Regions from separate parts of the Homo sapiens genome. Here region 1 is linked to region 2. Evidence: fine-mapped expression QTL. A gene starts in region 2. The other region holds a variant in brackets. All regions are shown on one strand. Distances are between the middles of the regions.

Region 1 (9,342 bases), 110 kb after region 2:
TTAGAACAGTGACTGACACATATCAGGCACTCAATAATTATTTGCTGAATTTCTCAATGTCTCGATTTGGCATAAGGATTTCATTTTCCCATGGTATATTTTCTTCTGTGGATTGATGGGCTAGTACTAATTTGCACGGGTGTCTTGGTGATTCACAATCATGATTTTAATGTCCCAGTCCCCTTTGGCTACAGGAGGTACTTGATCCTAGGTGACTAAGGCAGAAATAAATAGAATGTGTAGGACTCCTCTGGTGTAAAAAGTCATGGGTTCCAAAAGTTCATTTATAAGTCAATTGTTTGGACATCCTGAACTTATTTTCAGAACACGATTGGGCACAGCTAGTTAACTGCAGGGAGGCCTGAGGAGACTGGAAGGTGCCAGAACCTGGAACCAGATCTGCCCACTAGGACAGGACCAGCCCTGGAAGGACAGGAGCAGGTGCACTGGATTCTAAAGGTGTTCAGTGCAGCCGGCAGGGGACATTGCCCTGAAGGCAAGATTACAGGCAGCAGTCAGCATTAGAGAGGGCCCAGAGGAAATGGGGAGACCCTATTGGGAAGCAGAGTCTAGCAACTGGCAATGTAGGAGTAGTGATGGGCTGTTTACCAAAAACATCATTAGTGCAATAGTAACTGCAAAACAGAGAAAATATTTGTAATTCATATGTATCTGACAAATGACTCATATGCAGAATATTTAAGGAACTGCTTCAAATCAAAAAGAAAAAATAGACATTCAATAGAAAAAAATAACAAAAGACTTGAACAAGCACTTTTAAAGAGACAATATCTGAATGTGTCTAATAAACATATAAGTATGTTCTCCACAGCATTTGTAACCAGTCAAATGAAAGCCACAGTGAGATTTCACTACACACCCACCAGAATGGCTAATATTAAAAAGACAGGCAATACCAAATGTTGGTAAAGATGTGGAACAACTGACATTTTGTTATACTGCTGGTGGAAGTACAAATTGGTACAAATATTCTGTAAAATTATTGTTTTCTCATTACTGAAACTCTCAGGTATGCTATATACTCAACAGAAATGTTGAGAAATGTGTGCGTACGAACACCGAAAGGCATGTTTGAGAATGTCCATAGCAGCATATTTTGTAATAGCATAATCTGCTTCCGATGCAGATGTTTATCAACAGAAGAATAAACATATACATTGTGAAACTGTCATACAGTGGAATACTATTCAGCAATGAGAACAAACAAACCATTGCAACGCACAGCAATATGACAGACTCTTACAAGCCTAATATCAAGCAATAGATGTCAGATGCAAAGGAATACAAATAGCACGATTCTATCTATATAAAATTCAAACCCAGTAAGAATTAATCTATAATGAAGGGAATAATTTGTGCAGCAGAGATAGGTAGTTACTGGGAGGAGGCATAAGGGTTTCTGGGGTCACGGGAATGTTCTGTTTCTTGATTTGGGCAGTAAATACACAGGTATGTTCATTTTGTGAAAACCATCAGGCTATAAACTATATATACTTTTCTGTATGTATGCTGTATTATAGTAGAATATGCACTTAATTTTTTTAAAAGGCAAGAAGTCATGGGATCAGCAGTACGAAGCATCTTGGCATGTAGCATGACCCAAAATCCAAGCAGGGGTCAGGAGTTAGAAGCCACTTCAGGTAAGGGAGACTGATGAGAGTTATGCAATACCACAACCCAGGAAGAGTTTGGGAGTTACATAGACAGGTTTTAGCCCAGACCATCTGAGCTGGTCGGGCTCAGTCTGCCACTTACTACCATGAGCCACCTAACCAACCTCTCTGGATCTCAGTTTTCTCATTTGCAAAATGAAGGTAATATGAAACTCTCCAGGTTTGCTTGGTACAGAGAACAAGTTTAACAAATATTTGCTATTAATAATAATAGTCATTTTACCTCAGCAGGTGCAAGAAGGAGATTTAGTTACTGCCCCTGCAGTATAGAGTTCAAGCTTTGGGTCTCAGGAACAATATAGAAACCCGCTAATGTGAACCAGGGGTCAAAGTCAGAGCTGAACACATATTAAAAGGCACTCAAGTGACTTCCTGAGTCCTGGGCTAGAAATGTTCAAAATTCTGTAGGACAAATCTGCATCACGCGAGGAGAGAGAAGAGATGCAGAGAGTGGGCTGGACCCGACAGAGTAGTTTGTCCCACAAATATGACTGCTGACAATTTCTCCTATCTGTGCATACTCCAGGAGATGGAGTCTAGTTTCCCCCTCCTTGAAAGAATGTTGGCCCTGGGAGGCACTTTGAACAGTAGAGTGAAAATAGCAATGATGCTATCTATACCTGGCAGTTTTTGCTTTGCTTCCTTGGAAACTGGTGGTCATACTGTAAGGAAGTCCATGCTATTCTGCTGGAAAAAGAGGCCACGTGGAGAGGACATGGAGGATGTAATACCACATGGAGAGAGAGGCCATGAGGAGGAGAAACAAGGCACCCCTGCTGAAGATTGAATCAAGGTCCCAGATGTATGAGAGAGACCTTTCTTCCAGAAAAGCCCAGCCACCTGCTGAATTCAGTCACGTGGGTGAGCCTTGGCCAACAACTGGTAGAGTGGAAGAGTTGCCCACTCAACCCCACAGAACTGTGAGAAAAAATAAGTGATTTTTGTTTTAAGTTCTGGATTGGTTTGTTATGCATTGATAGATAACTGATACTGCTTTGGGAGACTGAGGCAGGAAGGATCACTTGAGCCCAGGAGTTCGAGATCAGACTGGGGAACAAAAATAAATAAATAAATTAGCTTGGCATGGTGGTGCACACCTGTACTTGGGAGACTGAGGTGGGAGGGTCACTTGAGTCCAGGAGTTTGAGGTTACAGTGAGCTATGATCATGCCTCTGCACTCCAGCTGATTGAGTGAGACACTATCTCTTGAAAAAATAATGGCAGCTGGTACCAAAATGGGTACCCCAAAGTTGGGTGCTGTCATATAACAAAAACCTAATATGTGTGTCATTGGCTATAGGATCAGGGAGATGGAGGCCAGAGAAGTGATAGGAATACAGAAGTGGAGGCTGGAAGAACAATGAAGAAACTCCATGGGAAGCTGGAGGAAGGGCCACAAGCGCTATAGGTGGCACTAAGTTAACATGCTAAGTTAAACATGGGCCCGTGTACTTGTGGGTTTGCCAAGGAGATTTTCCAGCAAATTATGAAAAGTGCCAATTCATTTATCTTAACTCACTGCCTGTGATAAGGTAAGGGAAGAGAGAGATGAGCTAAAGAAGGAACTGTGCAGTTTTCAAGCAAACGTTAGAGGATGTATTTCCAACCCAGGATTTATTGGTTTGGAAAATAAAACCACTTTCTCATTCTCAGCATCTCCAGCTGGAAAAAGGTTTTATTGTTTGTTTGCTTTTTTTTTTTTTTTTTTTTTTTTGAGACAGAGTCTTGCTCTGTCATCCAGGCTGGAGCGCAGTGGCGTGATTTTGGCTCACTACAACCTCCACCTCCCCAGTTCAAGCAATTTTTGTGCCTCAGCCTCCCGAGTAGCTGGCATTATAGGCACATACCACCAGGCCCTGCTAATTTTTGTATTTGTAGTAGAGACGGGGTTTCACCATGTTGGCCAGGCTGGTCTGGAGCTCCTGACCTCATGCGATTGCCTGCCTCGGCCTCCCACAGTGCTGGGATTACAGGCGTGAGCCACCCACTGCACTGGGCCCTGAAAAAAGATTCTTGAAGTAAGAAATAGTCTCGGGGAAAAGATCAAATCCAGGATGCGACTAGTGTAACAGGGCCTTGGAGCAAGATTAAAACAAAGTGTCCCTATAAGACTCTTTGTCAAGGTCACATAAAAATTTAAAGTGGCTTCACAGATCCTTTCTCCTATGCTTCTGAGAAC[C/T]TTTGGAACATTGTTCCACAGTACCCTGACTTGTAGCCCTAAGTGGAAAGGAGCTTATCTTGAAGATAATTGTGATTGTGGCTTTTGTTTATGGAAATGGATTGGAATTTGATAAAAGACTTTAAAGGAGTTGTACCAAGTTGGACTCAAGGGAAGCAGAAAGAGTTCAAAATGCAAAGAGACTTTGGGACTCCCGCTCCCTTTGGTCAAAAGCAGAACCAGGTGCAAACATTACTCAGTCACTATGGAAAGGGGCAGCAACACAGGGCAGACTCAAGAGCTCAGATGGTGGAACCAAGAACAATGGAGAATACTAGATCAGGAAACCGAAGCCAGAGAGCAGTAACCTGTAAACAAGGACCCTAAGCGAGGAGCTTTCTGTGTCTTCCTGCCCTTGACTCTGGAGTCAAGGGAACTCATGATACGTGTTTGGTTGATTTCCTAACTGCTATGAAACAGTCACTGCTATGGACCAGAGATAGCAGCTACCCCTGTCTCACCCTTAGATGTTGGGTGGAGGAGAGGTAGATACTCAGGTAATTCGCAGGTATCGAGAGCCAGAGGCCTCACCTTTGAGGAGACTTTTCTACATTTGGACCTGATGCAGATCACAAGAAACTGGACTTCAACTCATGCGCCATAATTGGATGAGTCTTTGAGAAGTATTGGGAGAGGAGTTTATTTTGACTAATAGTGAGTAATAGGTGTAGTAGAAGTGACATTCTAGGACTTCTGTTCCCAGACATTGTAGCTTCTGTTTTCATCTTTTTGCATTCCAGTTGCCGTGAAAAGGAGTTCAGGATAGACTACGAAATCACGAGAAACCACACAGAAGTGGAAGGCCCAGTGAGCCTCCAGCCATTGCAGCCACCTTGGCTGAGGTGCCAGGTATGTTAGGGAAGCTGTCTTTGCTGTTCCAGCCCCAGTGAAGCTGCCAGCTGAATGTAGCTGCAAGTATGACCTCAGTCAACACTGCGAGAAGCAGAGTCAAGGTATCCCCACCAAGTCCTGAGCAACTGCAAAATCATGAGTAAATAAATGGGGACAGTTGTTTCAAATCACTAATTTTGGGGGTGATTTTTATACAGCAAAGGATAACTGACACTAGCCAGCACACAGAAGATGATGAAGTTTTCATGTTCCACATTACAATTCACAATCCTAAAAGATCTGTTCTCCTGCCTGCTATTTTTACCTCATCTGGTGTTCCCTGAACCAGCTTGGGGTTTCATAACAAAATACCATAGACTGGGTGGCTTAAACACAGAATTTTACTTTCTCACAGTTCTAGAGGCTGGAAAGTCCAATATTAAGTTTCCAGCAATGGTTGGTTTCTTCCTGCTGGCCACTCCCTGATGTCCTTTCTTTTTCTTTCTTTCTCTTTCTTTCTTCTTTCTTTCTTTCTTTCTTTCTTTCTTTCTTTCTTTCTTTCTTTCTTTCTTTCTTTCTTTCTTTCCTGCTTTCTTTCTTTCTTTCTTTTCTTTCTTCTTTCTTTCTTTCCTTCTTTCTTTCTTTCTTCCTTTCTTTTTCTTTCTTTCTCTTTCTCTCTCTTTCCTTCTTTCTTTCTTTCTTTCTTTCCCCTCCCCTGGCCTCCCCTCCCCTCCCCTTCCTTCCTTCTTTCTTCTTTCTTTCTTTCCTTCTTTCCTTCTTCCTTCCTTCCTTCCTTCCTCTCTCTCTCTCTCTCTCTCTTTCTTTCTGTCTTTCTTTCTTTCTTTCTTTCTTTCTTTCTTTCTTTCTTTCTTTCTTTCTTTCTTTCTTTCTTTCTTTCTTTCTTTCTTTCTCTTTCTTTTTCTTTCAGACAGAGTCACACTCCAGCCTGGGCGACAGAGTGAGACTCCACCATGCCCAGCCCTGATGTCTTTTCTTATAAGGGCACTAATTGCATCATGAAAGCCCCACCCTCAGGCCAAGTGCGGTGGCTCACACCTGTAATCTCAGCACTTTGGGAGGCCGAGGTGGGAGGATCACAAGGTCAGGAGTTCAAGACCAGCCTGGCTAATATGGTGACACCCTGTCTCTACTAAAAATACAAAAATTAGCCGAGCGTGGTGGTGCACACCTGTAGTCCCAGCTACTTGGGAGGCTGAGGCAGAAGAATCGTTTGAACCCGGGAGGCGGAGGTTGCAGTGAGCCAAGATCGTGCCACTGCACTCCAGCCTGGGCAACAGAGCGAGACTCTGTCTCAAAAACAAACAAACAAAAAAACAAGAGCCCCACTCTCATGACGTCATCTAAGCCTAAGCACCTCCCAAAGCTCCCATCTCTAAATACCATCACATTGGAGGTTAAGGCTTCAACATATGAATTTTGGGTTGGATACAATTCACTCCATAACATTCCCTTTCTTACTTTTGTCCAGTAACATTGACTCTTCTGTTTCTCAAACATGACAATCTTGTTCATACCTTGGGCTGTGCAATTGCCGTTCCCCCTCTAGAATATGGTGCCTCCCAGATATTCACTGGCTCCTGATTATCCAGCCTCAGAGTAAATCCTACTAATATTTCCTTGGAATGGCCTTCTGTCACCACTCAATGGGAAGTATGTCACCTAAACACTCTATCACATCACCCTGTAGTACTTCGATCACAGAATTTGAGACTCTCTGAAATAATCTTATTCATTTATTTGTTTGCTTGCTTGTTTGTCCATCCCCCACCTGCAGTGTCCGTGACTGTGGGTACCTTGTCACTCTTACAGCTGTATCTGTGGTATCTAGAATAGTTCCCAGCACATGGTAGGTATACTTTTTTTTAATTTAATGAATAATCTACAACATGCCTATATTGTGGAACTGATAAATGATGTCATATACTTACCTCTATTCATCAAACACTTATTTTACCAAACACTAGTTCACTAGGAATTTAAAATGAAGCAGACATGTCCTTTGACTTTCCAATAACTCCCTGTGGATGTATATTGTGCATAGAGGAGGGAAGAGCATAAACAAAAACTTTCCTACTGTGGGATAAATGCACTAATAGGAGGGTACATGAGAAGTATGGAAACGCGGGCTTGGGGTGCAGTGAATTCTACCTGGAGGGAGAGGGAGAAGCAGGTCCTGGAGAGCCACAAAGGACATTTTAGCTACTCCTTGAAGAATGAGTTTCTAGCAAATGGGTAAGGAGGTGAAGGGCAAGGATTGCACACAAAAGAAATAGCATAGTGGAAGAAATGCAAGTGCCCACTGACAGGTGAATGGATGAACAAAATATGGCACAGTTGTCCCTAGGTATCTGCAGAGAAATGGTCCCAAGACCCACATGGATACTGAAGTCCACAGATGCTCAAGTCCTTTATACAAAGTGGTGTAGTATTTGCAGGCCAGGCACTGTGGCTCATGCCTGTAATCCCAGCACTTTGGGAGGCCAAGGTGGGCAGATCACCAGAGGTCAGGGGTTCGAGACAAACCTGGCCAACATGCCGAAACCCCGTCTCTACTAAAAATACAAAAATTAGCCAGGTGTGGTAGTGCATGCCTATAGTCACAGCTACTCAGGAGGCTGAGACAGGAGAATCACTTGAACCCAGAAGGTGGAGGTTTCAGCCTGGGCGACAGAGCGAGACTCCATCTCAAAAAGAAAAAAAAGGTTACGATGGTAACTTTTTTGTTATATGTATTTTACCACAATTAAAAAGTTGAAAAATAACAGAACTAGCATGAACAAAAATATAAATGGTGTAGTGGCCTGGATGCAGGGAGGGCACAAGAAGGAGAGAGAGCAGGAGATGTGGCTGGAGGGAAGAACAGAGCTGGGTTGTAACGGGCCTATGTATCATCATAAATTTGCACTTTATTCAATAGCTATTGTGGAAATGGGAGCAAAACCCACTTTGACAGAGTCCTAACTCTGGACGTGGAGGACCTATGTCTCCACAGCTGCAGTCCTACAACCCAGATTACAAACTTCCCAGGTCTATACCACCAGTAAGGATCCTATGGCCAGGGGCAGAGGTTATTGAGCCTTGGAGGCTGGGAAGAGGTAGGAAGCAAGGATTGGGGATCCTAAAGAGGAAAGGACTAGGGAAGAAGCTGTTGGAATGGAGAGGGTATGGGAACCGATGGGGCAGGGCGAAGGGTATGTTGATCCCTTCGTGTAGCTCAGAGGGTCAGGAGCAGGGAGGGCAGCTCAGGGCTCCACTGTCTTCAGATCAATCATTTTCCCATCTCCCTCCTACTCTCCTCACCACGGACATGCTGGGGGAGTGAGGTGGTAGGGACAGGAGGGAGACGCAGTGGCGGAAACCAAGACGAGGGTCTTTCCATCCTTCTCTTTCGTCCATACTCAAAACTATGGACTAGTATTGGGGTGAAAGGAGCAGTGGGAATGGAGTGAGGAGGAGGAGATGGAAAGTCTCTCTCTCTCTCTCTCTCTTAGTCTCTCTCTCTCTCTCTTAGTCTCTTTCTCTCTCCTCCCTTCTTCCACTGAAGGTCCTATTTCCATCAGATACTGATACTAGAACTGCGAAGGGTGGTGGGGGTGGTAATGTGGTAGATAGACCCGGCTAGACTCAGACATGATATTACGCAGTGATGCTTCTGCAACAGCCAAGGAACAAGGGAAGAAGAGGGAAAGCATGCATGTGTGCATGCGTGTGTGTTTGTGTGTGTGTGTACACCTCCAGTGTTACAGAGTGAGGCAAAGGGAATCCCTGTAATCACCCGGCTGTGGACAAGATAAGTGACCAGCATAAATAAACATACTGCAGTCAGTACGTGACAGGAGCCTCCTCGCCCATGGAGGCATGACACACAGCAAGGCAGGTGGCCTGGCATATAGTTTGTTCTATCTACCAAGGTGACTCCCTAGGCTCGGTGCCAAGTGCCGAAGAACCCTACAAGAGTGCTATTGGTCTTTGGTGGAAAGAATAGCTACCACAAGGCAAGGCCAAGACAGAGTCGATTGGAGAAAAGCAGGCTAGTCCTTTGCTGGTAAGCTTGCCTTTTTAACTTTTTTTTTTTTTCTTTGAGAGGGGGTCTCACTCTGTCGCCCAGGCTGGAGTGCAGTGGCATGATCTCGGCTCACTGCAACCTCTTCCTCCCAGGCTCACGTGATCTCCCGTTTCAGCCACCCAAGTAGCTGGGACTACAGGCACACACCCCCATACCCAGCTAATTTTCTGTATTTTTAGTAGAGACAGGGTTTTGCCATGTTGCCCAGGCTGGCCGCAAACTCCTGAGCTCAAGCAATCTGCCTGCCTCGGCCTCCCAGAGTGCTAGGATTACAGGTGTGAGCCACAGTGCCCAGCCTTAATTTTTTTTTAATCAAGAATATTTGAGAAAATATTTCAAATTTGCCTTTAAGCCTTTTGCTGAACTTCAAGAAAAGTTCTACCTCTATGCATAACTTTTCCAAAACAACGCAAACCAAAAAGATTTTGAGTGGCACATTTGCCTTCTTCACCAAAGCCCCGTTCCATCATTATTAGAAGTAACTGTTTAAATTCAATTTTTGGCAGGGCGC
Region 2 (9,342 bases):
CACATGAGTAAAGTCAGTAGCGTGCTGGTAAATGTTTAAGATCTTGTTCTTTGGGGGAAAAAGTTCCTAAGTTCTAGCAGTTGCCCTGGATAACTTCAAGGTATCAACATGGAAGTTATGTACAAAAATGGCTGTCACAAGCCAGTATGAGCTAACACCAACATACTACCCAGTGTTCTTCAAACTTCAGCTCACAGCCCATTAGTGGGGCTTGCAAACATTTTAGTGGACTATAAGCAGCATTTTTTTAAAATGAAAAAGTAGATTGTTTTACACATAACAGGAGTATTGTTTTGTACAATTTTTTTTTTTTTTTTTTTTTTTTTTTAGACACAGTTTCACTCTGTTGCCCAGGCTGGAGTACAGTGGTACAATCTCAGCTCACTGCAACCTCGGCCTTCTGGGTTCAAGCGATTCTCATGCCTCAGCCTCCCGAGTAGCTGAAATTACAGGCATGCGCCACAAGGCCCAGCTAATTATTGTATTTTTAGTAGAAACAGGGTTTCACCATATTGGCCAGGCTGGTCTCAAACTCCTGACCTCAAGTGATCCACCTGCCTCGGCTTCCCAAAGTGCTGGGATTACAGGAGTGAGCCAACGTGCCTGGTCAAAATTTTTGTTTTCGTAATTTTAAGTATGTGTGTAGTAAGTCTCAATGGAAATGTAATTCTTATGGCAGGTCACTTGAAAAAAAAGAAGTCTAAAAGTCACCAATGTAGTATCTTCTCTTTAAAAAAAAAAAAAAAACAACAGGAGAAAACCTGAATCTGCCCTTTGCTCCACTCCTTCCTCAGCTATAATGCTGCTTCTCCATTCCTCCTCACAGCAAACCTTTCTGAAATCTTTATAGTCATGGTTTCCACCAGTTCTTCACCTCCCATTTCTCAACACACTTCAGAGTCAGAGTCAGCAATGACATCCATGTTCCTAAGCCCATTGCTTACTTCCGTCCTCCTTGGCCTCTCAGCACACTTGGCACACAGGCTGTTTCTCTTTCTTTGGCATCTGTGACACCACTCTCAGCAAATTCCCCTGGTTGTCCCTTCTCAGTCTCATTTATTGGCGTTGTCTTATCTCCCCAGGGCTGTCCGAGGTGATTTTCTCCCACTACTCTCCTAGGTGGTGCCATCCAATCTCATGATGTCATATCATTCTTCCCTCATGCTTCAGCCATACTGGTTGGTGGCCTTTGTTTCCTGAACACATTTAATGCATTCTCAAGACCCTCAGGGACTTTGCAGCAGCTGCTCGCTAAGGCTGGAATGCTCTTCCCCACCATCTTCATATGGCTGTTTCCTTTCTTTCACTCACCAGCAGCTTAAACTTTGACTCCTCTGAGAGACTTTCCTTGTCACCCAACTAAGGTTGCCACTCAGGTGCTCCCAATTTAATCTTCTCTAAAACACATCACTGTATGTGTCCTCAACTAGAGTATAAGCTTCCTCGAAACAAGAACAATCAAAACTCCTTGCCCTCATGGAGTTTATAGTCTTATGATGGGTGAAGTAACATAAAATAAAAAGGCACCTTATATAGTATATTAGCATGACAAATGTTAGCCAGAAATAAAGCAAGGAAGAGTTGCTAGGGAGTGTGTATGAGTGTGTTTTGGGAGAGTGTTTGCAATTTTAAATATTGGTGGTCAGGAAGGGCCCCACTGAGAACTGACATTTGAGTAGACTTGAAAAGGGAAAAGGAAATATTGAGTAAAGATTTTAGGATGGGAGTGTGACAGGCCTGCTAGGAGAATAGCAAAGTCGCTGTGGCTGCTGCAGAAAAAGTGAGAAGGAAAGTAGTAGGAGATGAAATCACAGTGTGTGAGGATTCGGGCAGATCAGGAAGTGCTCGTGTAAGAACTGGATCTTTACTCAAAGAATGAGCAAAAATTAGTAGACGGTTGGCCGGATGCAGTGGCTCACACCTGCAATCCCAGGTTACAGGAGGCCGAGGCGGGCGGATCACTTGAGGTCAGGAGTTCAAGACTAGCCTGGGCAACATGGTGAAACCTCATCTCTACTAAAAATACAAAACTTAGCTGGGCATGGTGGCGCGCACCTGTAGTCCCAGCTACTCAGGAGGCTGAGGCACATGAATCACTTGAACACGGTAGGCAGAGGCTGCAGTGAGCTGAGAATGTAACACTGTACTCCACTCCAACCTGGGCAACAGAGTGAGACTGCCTCAAAAAAAAAAAAAAGTAGGTTTTAGTAAGGGATTAACATGATCTGAATTATGTTTTGTCATGACTTCTCTGGCTGTTGTGTTGAGACTACATTGCAGAGGGGCAAGGGCAAATATAGGGAGACCGATTAGGATACTGCAGTAATAATGTAAGAGATGTGGGACTCTATCTAGAAGGGCCCATGAGGTCCTTTGCATGCTAGTATTCTTTACTGCTGTGCCTGGCCATGATAGGCATTCAGTGAATATTTGCTTATTTAAAATAACACACTGGGCTAATTGAACAACAGTGCCAAATGAGGGAGATATTTCTAGGAATAAGTTCTTAGGATTTATGAACATTTTAATCCAGATTTTCTTTGTTAACTCTGCTCTCTGGCCCTTTCACTCAGCCCCGTTTGCACCTAAATATGACTTACAAAAGAAACACAGCATTTATGTGTACTTATTTCAACTTATTTTAGCTTTGTAAAGAAGTACAAGGTTGACTCAGGGCCCAGCTTGGTGTCTCATGCCTGTAATTTCAGCATTGTGGGAGGCCAAGGCAGGAAGATATTGTGAGCCCAGGAGTTTGAGACCAGCCTGGGCAACACAGTGGACCCTGTCTCTACAAAAAAAAATTTTTAAATTAGCTGGGCATAGTGGTGTGCGTCTATAGTCCCAGCTACTCCTGGGGCTGAGGTGGGAGGATCACTTGAGGGAAACCCTGTCTCAAAGTGGCGGGGCTGGGGGGAGACTCAGGCAGAATTGTGAAGATATTCAATTGCTCCTGACTTTATCAATAATCTAACATTTCAACCTAACATTGATATCTATTTTATGCAAAGCATTACACTATGCACTGGAGACTGTATAAGACAAGTTCCTTTTCTCAAACTACAGTCGAGTTGGATAGATAAAACACACAACACATACCAAAAGACAGCTATAAATCCAAGGCAGTGTATGTCAAGGGTAAATTCACCTATTCAGATTGGATCTTGAGAAGTGCATCAGGCTTGGAAAATGGGTAAGGAGGAGAGAAAAGCAACAGTGAATCAGAACATGAGTTCCCAGTTATGGGACTTGTAATGAATTCCTCAATTAAAACAAAAAATAATGAAAACAAAAGCCAGGGAGGAGAAAGCCCACGTTAATGACACTAAAATATATCTTTCCAAACAAATGTGGATAAAAGCCAAGTAGAGAAGATGAGAACTTTGAGGTCCCTAACAGAAAATAAACAGTAAGCAGCCAGCCATTCCAAGTGGCTGACATGACTTTGTTTAACTTTATTTGTATTTCTGGCTGGTGTGTTTACAGCCAATAGGTCAAACTATCAGTCAGTGTAGGGCCCTGAGAAGTCGGGTATTTAAGAGCATCTAATAGGCACAGAATTGTGCTCCATACTGCTTAAACTGTTCCCTAAGTGTCCAATTTGGAGAAAACACCCACACGCAGGATAACTGGCGAGTGACGCGGAGTGGCTGCGAGTCCAAGTTATCACTAACGGATGGGGAGCTTGGGCTGGGCACAGTCCAGCGTACTGAACCCTTCCCCCACCGTTTCACCTGCATACAGAGGTGTGTACTGTCAAAAAGCAGCGCCTCCAAGTCTCTTCTGGCACTGTCTGGACTTGGATCCGAGGCAGACGAGGAAGCTGAGAAAACCCTGGCGTTGACCCCGTGGACCTGGGCGCCCCGGGAAGGCCAGCGCTTGGTCCAGGCAGGCGGGGCCTGTGCGGTGACCACCCTGGTCCTGAAAAGTCCCAGCCCCGAGCGCCCTCCCTCCTAGACCTGGAGGCCTGGAACAGCCAGGTGGACGTCGGCCCACCTTTCTTTTCTTTCCTTCCCATTTTCCTACCACCTCCCACCCCACTCCGCCTTCCGGGCAAAGGCAGCCAGATCCACCCAGGACACATTCTTTGTCCTTATCCCTCTGTGCTCGTCCCACAGCAAGCCAGTCGCGGTCCAAGGCTCCAGAGGCTGTGCAGGAGGCCGAGCTGGGTGGCGATCAGCGGCGGGTCCCTGTCCAAAACCCAGCAGAGCCGCCAGGGACGCCCCAGACACAGAAGGCGGGGCGCGGGGAGGGTGGGGAGACCACAGCAGTGAGGCGCGCGAGCCGGGAAGTGAACGAGGACTGACTCCTGTCGCTTCCCGTAGCCGCCCACGGACGCCAGAGCCGGGAACCCTGACGGCACTTAGCTGCTGACAAACAACCTGCTCCGTGGAGCGCCTGAAACACCAGTCTTTGGGTGAGTCGCGCGACCCCCGGCCTCGGGTGGCGGGGCAGTCGCTAGAGGCGTGGCTGCTCTGAGGGTCTCGCCAGTGGAGGATGGCATTCGGATGTCACGGCTCCTAAATCACCATTTGATGGGTGGGACAGTGTCCAGTCCACCCCGACCCGCCGGTCCTCACCGCGGCAGAGCCGGGGCTGGGTGGCGGGGACGCTGCCTCTGCAGGCGAGGCGCTCCGGGGCATAAGGGATTATCAGGAGTCGCGGCCTTTCTTGGACATCCCTGGCTGGGGTCAGGCTGTTTGCCCTGGGGTGTCTCCTCGCTGCAAACCCACCCCACCTGGGCTGCTTTCTCACCTGTTCCCTCCTAGCCTGAGGCCGAGCGCCACCTCCAAGTGGAGGAATCTGGGGAAGTTTCCTTCCCGGAATTTGTAGTGACAGTGGAGTGACCTCCATTGCGTTCCCTGCCTCTAACACGCTCTTTAGGATGCCGAGTCATTTGACTGCAGTGTTAAACATTGCAAAGCGCAAGTCATGTGACTTCCTTTGACCGTACGTGAAACTTAAGTGATGGCTGCTTGTGATGCATACGAAGTGTTCATGCTGGCGGGACCTGTCCCTGGGGATACTTCGGGGGTTGCGTGATTTAATGCAAGCAGATGGCTTAAATTGGGTCACTGGCTTGTTATTATACATGTGTATGGCAACTCGGCATCCATTCTTTTTGCTCTTGTTCTTACTTCCTGAATTGAGTCACGGAGCCAGAGTTTTGAGGTTTTGACTAACGAATTAAGTTAATGACATGGGGCTATATTTAGGTGGTAAACCAAGAGGGATACAGTTTTTTTTCTTAATAAAGAAAAAGTGATAGATTTGATCGGTGTGTATTGTTGGTGTGCAGTATAATGACAGAATTGCTGGAAGTAAAATACAGGAAGCTCTGGTTTCATTTCCCCTTTAGTTCTGCTTAAAGTCGAGTTTTTCCTGGAGCTATTAAATGTAGTGTAGTGTCCATGAGTGCTTTTATCTTAAAAAATGTGGCTGATGCTTTCCAACACTCCCCTGCCCTGTGATTATTATTTTTTTAAGCAACAGAGAAAACCGTATCTTAATAGTATTAAAAGTATTGGATTTTTCCCTACTTTGATTTGTTTAAATTGGAGGAGGAAGAGCAATTCTTTCTATTCACAATAATAATAGCTAACATAGCGCTTACTCTTTCGCTGTTTTATTAACTCAATCCTCAGAACAAACCAATGATGTGAATACTGTAATTCTCATTTTATGGAAATGAAAATCTAAATGAATACCTCTGGTAATTGTACGGGACTGTTTGATTAGTATTTACCATTAATTAATTAAATTTTTTTTTTTTTTTGAGATGGAGTCTCGTTCTGTTGCCCAGGCTGGAGTGCAGTGGCACAATCTCGGCTCACTTCAACCTCCGTCTCCCAGGTTCAAGCAATTCTCCTGTCTCAGCCTCCTGAGTAGCTGGGACTACAGGTGCATGCCACTACGTCTGGCTAATTTTTGTATTTTTAGTAGGGATGGGATTTCACCATATTGGTCAGGCTGGTCTCTAACTCCTGAACCTCAGGTGATCCACCCGCCTTGGCCTCCCAAAGTGCTGGGATTACAGGTGTGAGCCACCATGCCTGGCCTATTTTAGTATTTTTAATAATAAATTCCATGTTAGAAATTTTCTACTGATGTATTTTTTAAGTCAATATTTCCTACACTCACAATCCAAAATTATTTAGTATATGAGCACACTGGTAAGAATGGGAGGCAGATCGTTGATTGTAATAATATTCTATTATTTGGTAAATATCAGTAACATAATATATAATTTAAATTTTAAAATAGGATATGAAGAAAAATGCTACATGCTTACTTTTCTTTTCCTCTATTTTTACTTTACACAGGGCCAGTGCCTCAGTTTCAATCCAGGTAACCTTTAAATGAAACTTGCCTAAAATCTTAGGTCATACACAGAAGAGACTCCAATCGACAAGAAGCTGGAAAAGAATGATGTTGTCCTTAAACAACCTACAGAATATCATCTATAACCCGGTAACTGATTTCTATAAGATAACTTTTTACCTATGCCAGGACAGATCCAATAGAATATTAATTATCCATTGGGAGACAGGGCAAGAATAAAAGCCAGTGAACATATTTAAAGCACCTACTATGTAATAGAGATGGTGGTGGGTGCTGATTACAAAACAGCTCTTGTCCTCTAGTGGAGGAAGAAGTCACAATGATAATATGACGTGATGAAACAGTGTTATGAACAGGGAACGTCTGGGTAGAGTGGAGGGAATGCCAACTTTTGGTGATGGGAGGAGGCTCAGCTAATCATAAATTGTAGTTTTTAAAGGAAAATGGATTTCTTACTCTACAAGTTTTTCATTTTCTTTTTTAATTAGAGCTGTCCATGAGAAGTTAATGTCTCGATCTTTCCCTCAGCCTTTCAAATACTGCTTGGCCCTTGAGCAGGGAAAATGTCAAAAGCCAATGGGGAGATGGAGAGTGTGAAGTAGTAAGGGTCTCGTGCAGTTCAGGCAGGTCCTAGAATCCCTGAATGACTGTAATTGCTGGAAATTGCCCTGTAATCCTGAGCAGTAAAGAGCTTGTTTTAGTTTTATGTGGTGGTGAGAATCTTTAGGAATGTCTAGTTTCCACGTATCTGAAGCTGAATCCTGAATCGAGGTCTGAAAAAGGACAGCCACTTTTTTAGTAAACCGCCTAGAAGATTCTTGGGCAAAAGGAAGGGTGAGAATCCTTAAAATGAGGCCCTAAACCAGTTTTGTTAGTGTGTGTGGGTTCAAGTTTTTGTCATTTACTTTATAGCTGTATTTCCTTTTTCCCTAAGTTTTAATGTCATTGTGTAAGAATGAGGTATCGCTGCTGTATCAAGCAAAGTCAGTTTTAGGAGAAATAGCCTTTCAGTGGTAGTAAGTTTAAAAAAGATGACTTCCTGAAGCGGAAGCTTGTGAGACATTTAAGATGACTTTGCGCATGTTAGAGTTAAAAACATCCCAAGGTTGTAAACTGATTTCCTGCAAAGATCTTAACAACAACAACAACAACAAACTAGGCTGCCTGCCACGGGTGTCTGAAGTATCATCTTGGCTCAAGCTGGGAGAATGGATAAAGGTTACACTGTTCATTTCTGCCCTTCACACAGAAAAGAAGATAATTTTATAGGTAAAATTCGTGCATATCTTGATTCTAGCATACTGCTGATTCCTGTAGTTTCTGGGGTCAGTACTCTCAACTATTGAGGTGGAACAAAAATAAGTAGACTTCATTTCTTGAGGAAGGGGATCTGGAGAAGTAGTTCTGCGCTAGAGCAGAAAATGCCTTCAGTCTTGTGGCATGGGCTGGATGCTGTTCTGAGGATAATGCATTTCCAAGGGAGATATTTTTGGCAAATAGCTTTTTTTTCTTTCTTTTCAAAATTCTCTGTTTTATTATCAGTTCTCACAAAAGAGTCGGAAAGGTTAGAGGTAGACTGAACTGAATGGCAAAAACATTTTGCGCTCTCTTTACGTTTCACTGCTGTAAAATATTTATAGTATAAAGGGCCTGTATTGCACTGAATTTCTCTCATTTGTAGCTAGTTGCCCTTTCAATGTTCCAAAAAAAAAGGCTGTAAATAACTTATTTTATTTATTCAATTAATTTTTTTTTTTTAATTTTTTGAGATATAGTTTCCCTCTGGTCACCCAGGCTGGAGTGAAATGATGCAATCTCGGCTTACTGCAATTTCTGCCTCCCGGGTTCAAGCAATTCTAGTGCCTCAGCCTCCTGAGTAGCTGGGACTGCAGGCACGTGCTACCATGCCCGGCTAATTTTTGTGTTTTTAGTAGATATGGGGTTTCACAGTGTTGGCCAGCCTAGTCTCAAACTCCTGACCTCAGGTGATGTGCCCACCTTGACCTCCAAAAGTGCTGGGATTACAGGCGTGAGGCACCATGCCTGGCCAACTTAGTTATTTAAAGATAATCAATTAGTATATTTTATAAGCTAGACTTAGGAAAACGGTTTTCAGCTGGGCATGGTGGCTCACACCTGTAATCCCAGCACTTTGGGAGGCCGAGGCAGGTGGATCACGAGGTCAGGAGTTCAAGACCAGCCTGGCCAAGATGGCGAAACTCCGTCTCTACTTAAAAATACAAAAATTAGCCAGGCGTGATGGCAGCCTCCTGTAATCCCAGCTACTCGGGAGGCTGAGGCAAGAGAATCACTTGAACCTGGGAGGCGGAGGTTGCAGTGAGCCGAGATGGTGCCACTGCACTCCAGCCTGGGTGACAGAGCGAGACTCCATCTCAAAAAAAAAAAAACCCCCCCACACACAAAACCTGTTTTCTTGAATCATGGTTGTTTTGTTACTGATAGGTTCAATAAGTAAATATATTTATTGTCTGTTGTATTCTTTATTAGGCATTATAAACACACCGCCACTTTTTAATTTTTATTTCATTAATGTTTCCAATTTTTTTTTTTTTTTTTTTTTTTAAGACAGAGGCTCGCTCTGTCATCCAGGCTGGAGTGGAGTGGTGCAGTCTTACCCCACTGCAACCTCCACCTCCTGGGCTCAGCCTTGTAAATAGCTGGGACTACAGGCATGCACCACCATGCCTGGCTAATTTTTGTATTTTTTTTGGTAAAGACAGAGTTTTGCCATGTTTCTCAGTCTGGTCAAGCACTCCTCCCGCCTCGGCCTCCCAAAGTGTTGGGATTACAGGCATGAGCCACCATGCCTGGCCTATTTCTAATATTTTGGTCCACATTGGTGTTAGACCAACTGTCCACATTAAGTTTTCTTGGAAAAGATGAAGTAAATATTGCAACTGGCCTATGTATTTTTTTCCCTATTTAGTATATTTCTTTGACTAGTTCAACTGATAGAATTCCAAGACTTAAAAAAGTCAGGCT

The links. PIP is the estimated chance that this variant, and not a neighbour inherited with it, causes the effect.
Region 1: its variant is fine-mapped to the expression of LGALS8 in whole blood (TOPMed, PIP 0.97).

What each region holds. Positions count from the first base shown.
Region 1 is chr1:236,627,588-236,636,929 of GRCh38, forward strand. No RefSeq gene overlaps it. Among named protein-coding and RNA genes, the nearest start is that of HEATR1, 28 kb to the left of the region's middle. The variant C/T (reference allele first, on the strand shown) is at 3,875.
Region 2 is chr1:236,519,648-236,528,989 of GRCh38, forward strand. It overlaps LGALS8 (galectin 8), which reads left to right and starts at 4,335. Exons shown (of 10, transcript NM_201544.4): 1 at 4,335-4,414; 2 at 6,321-6,468. The coding sequence starts at 6,424. It overlaps LGALS8-AS1 (LGALS8 antisense RNA 1), which reads right to left and starts at 4,861. Exons shown (of 1, transcript NR_034040.1): 1 at 3,422-4,861. RefSeq lists a silencer at 4,628-4,677.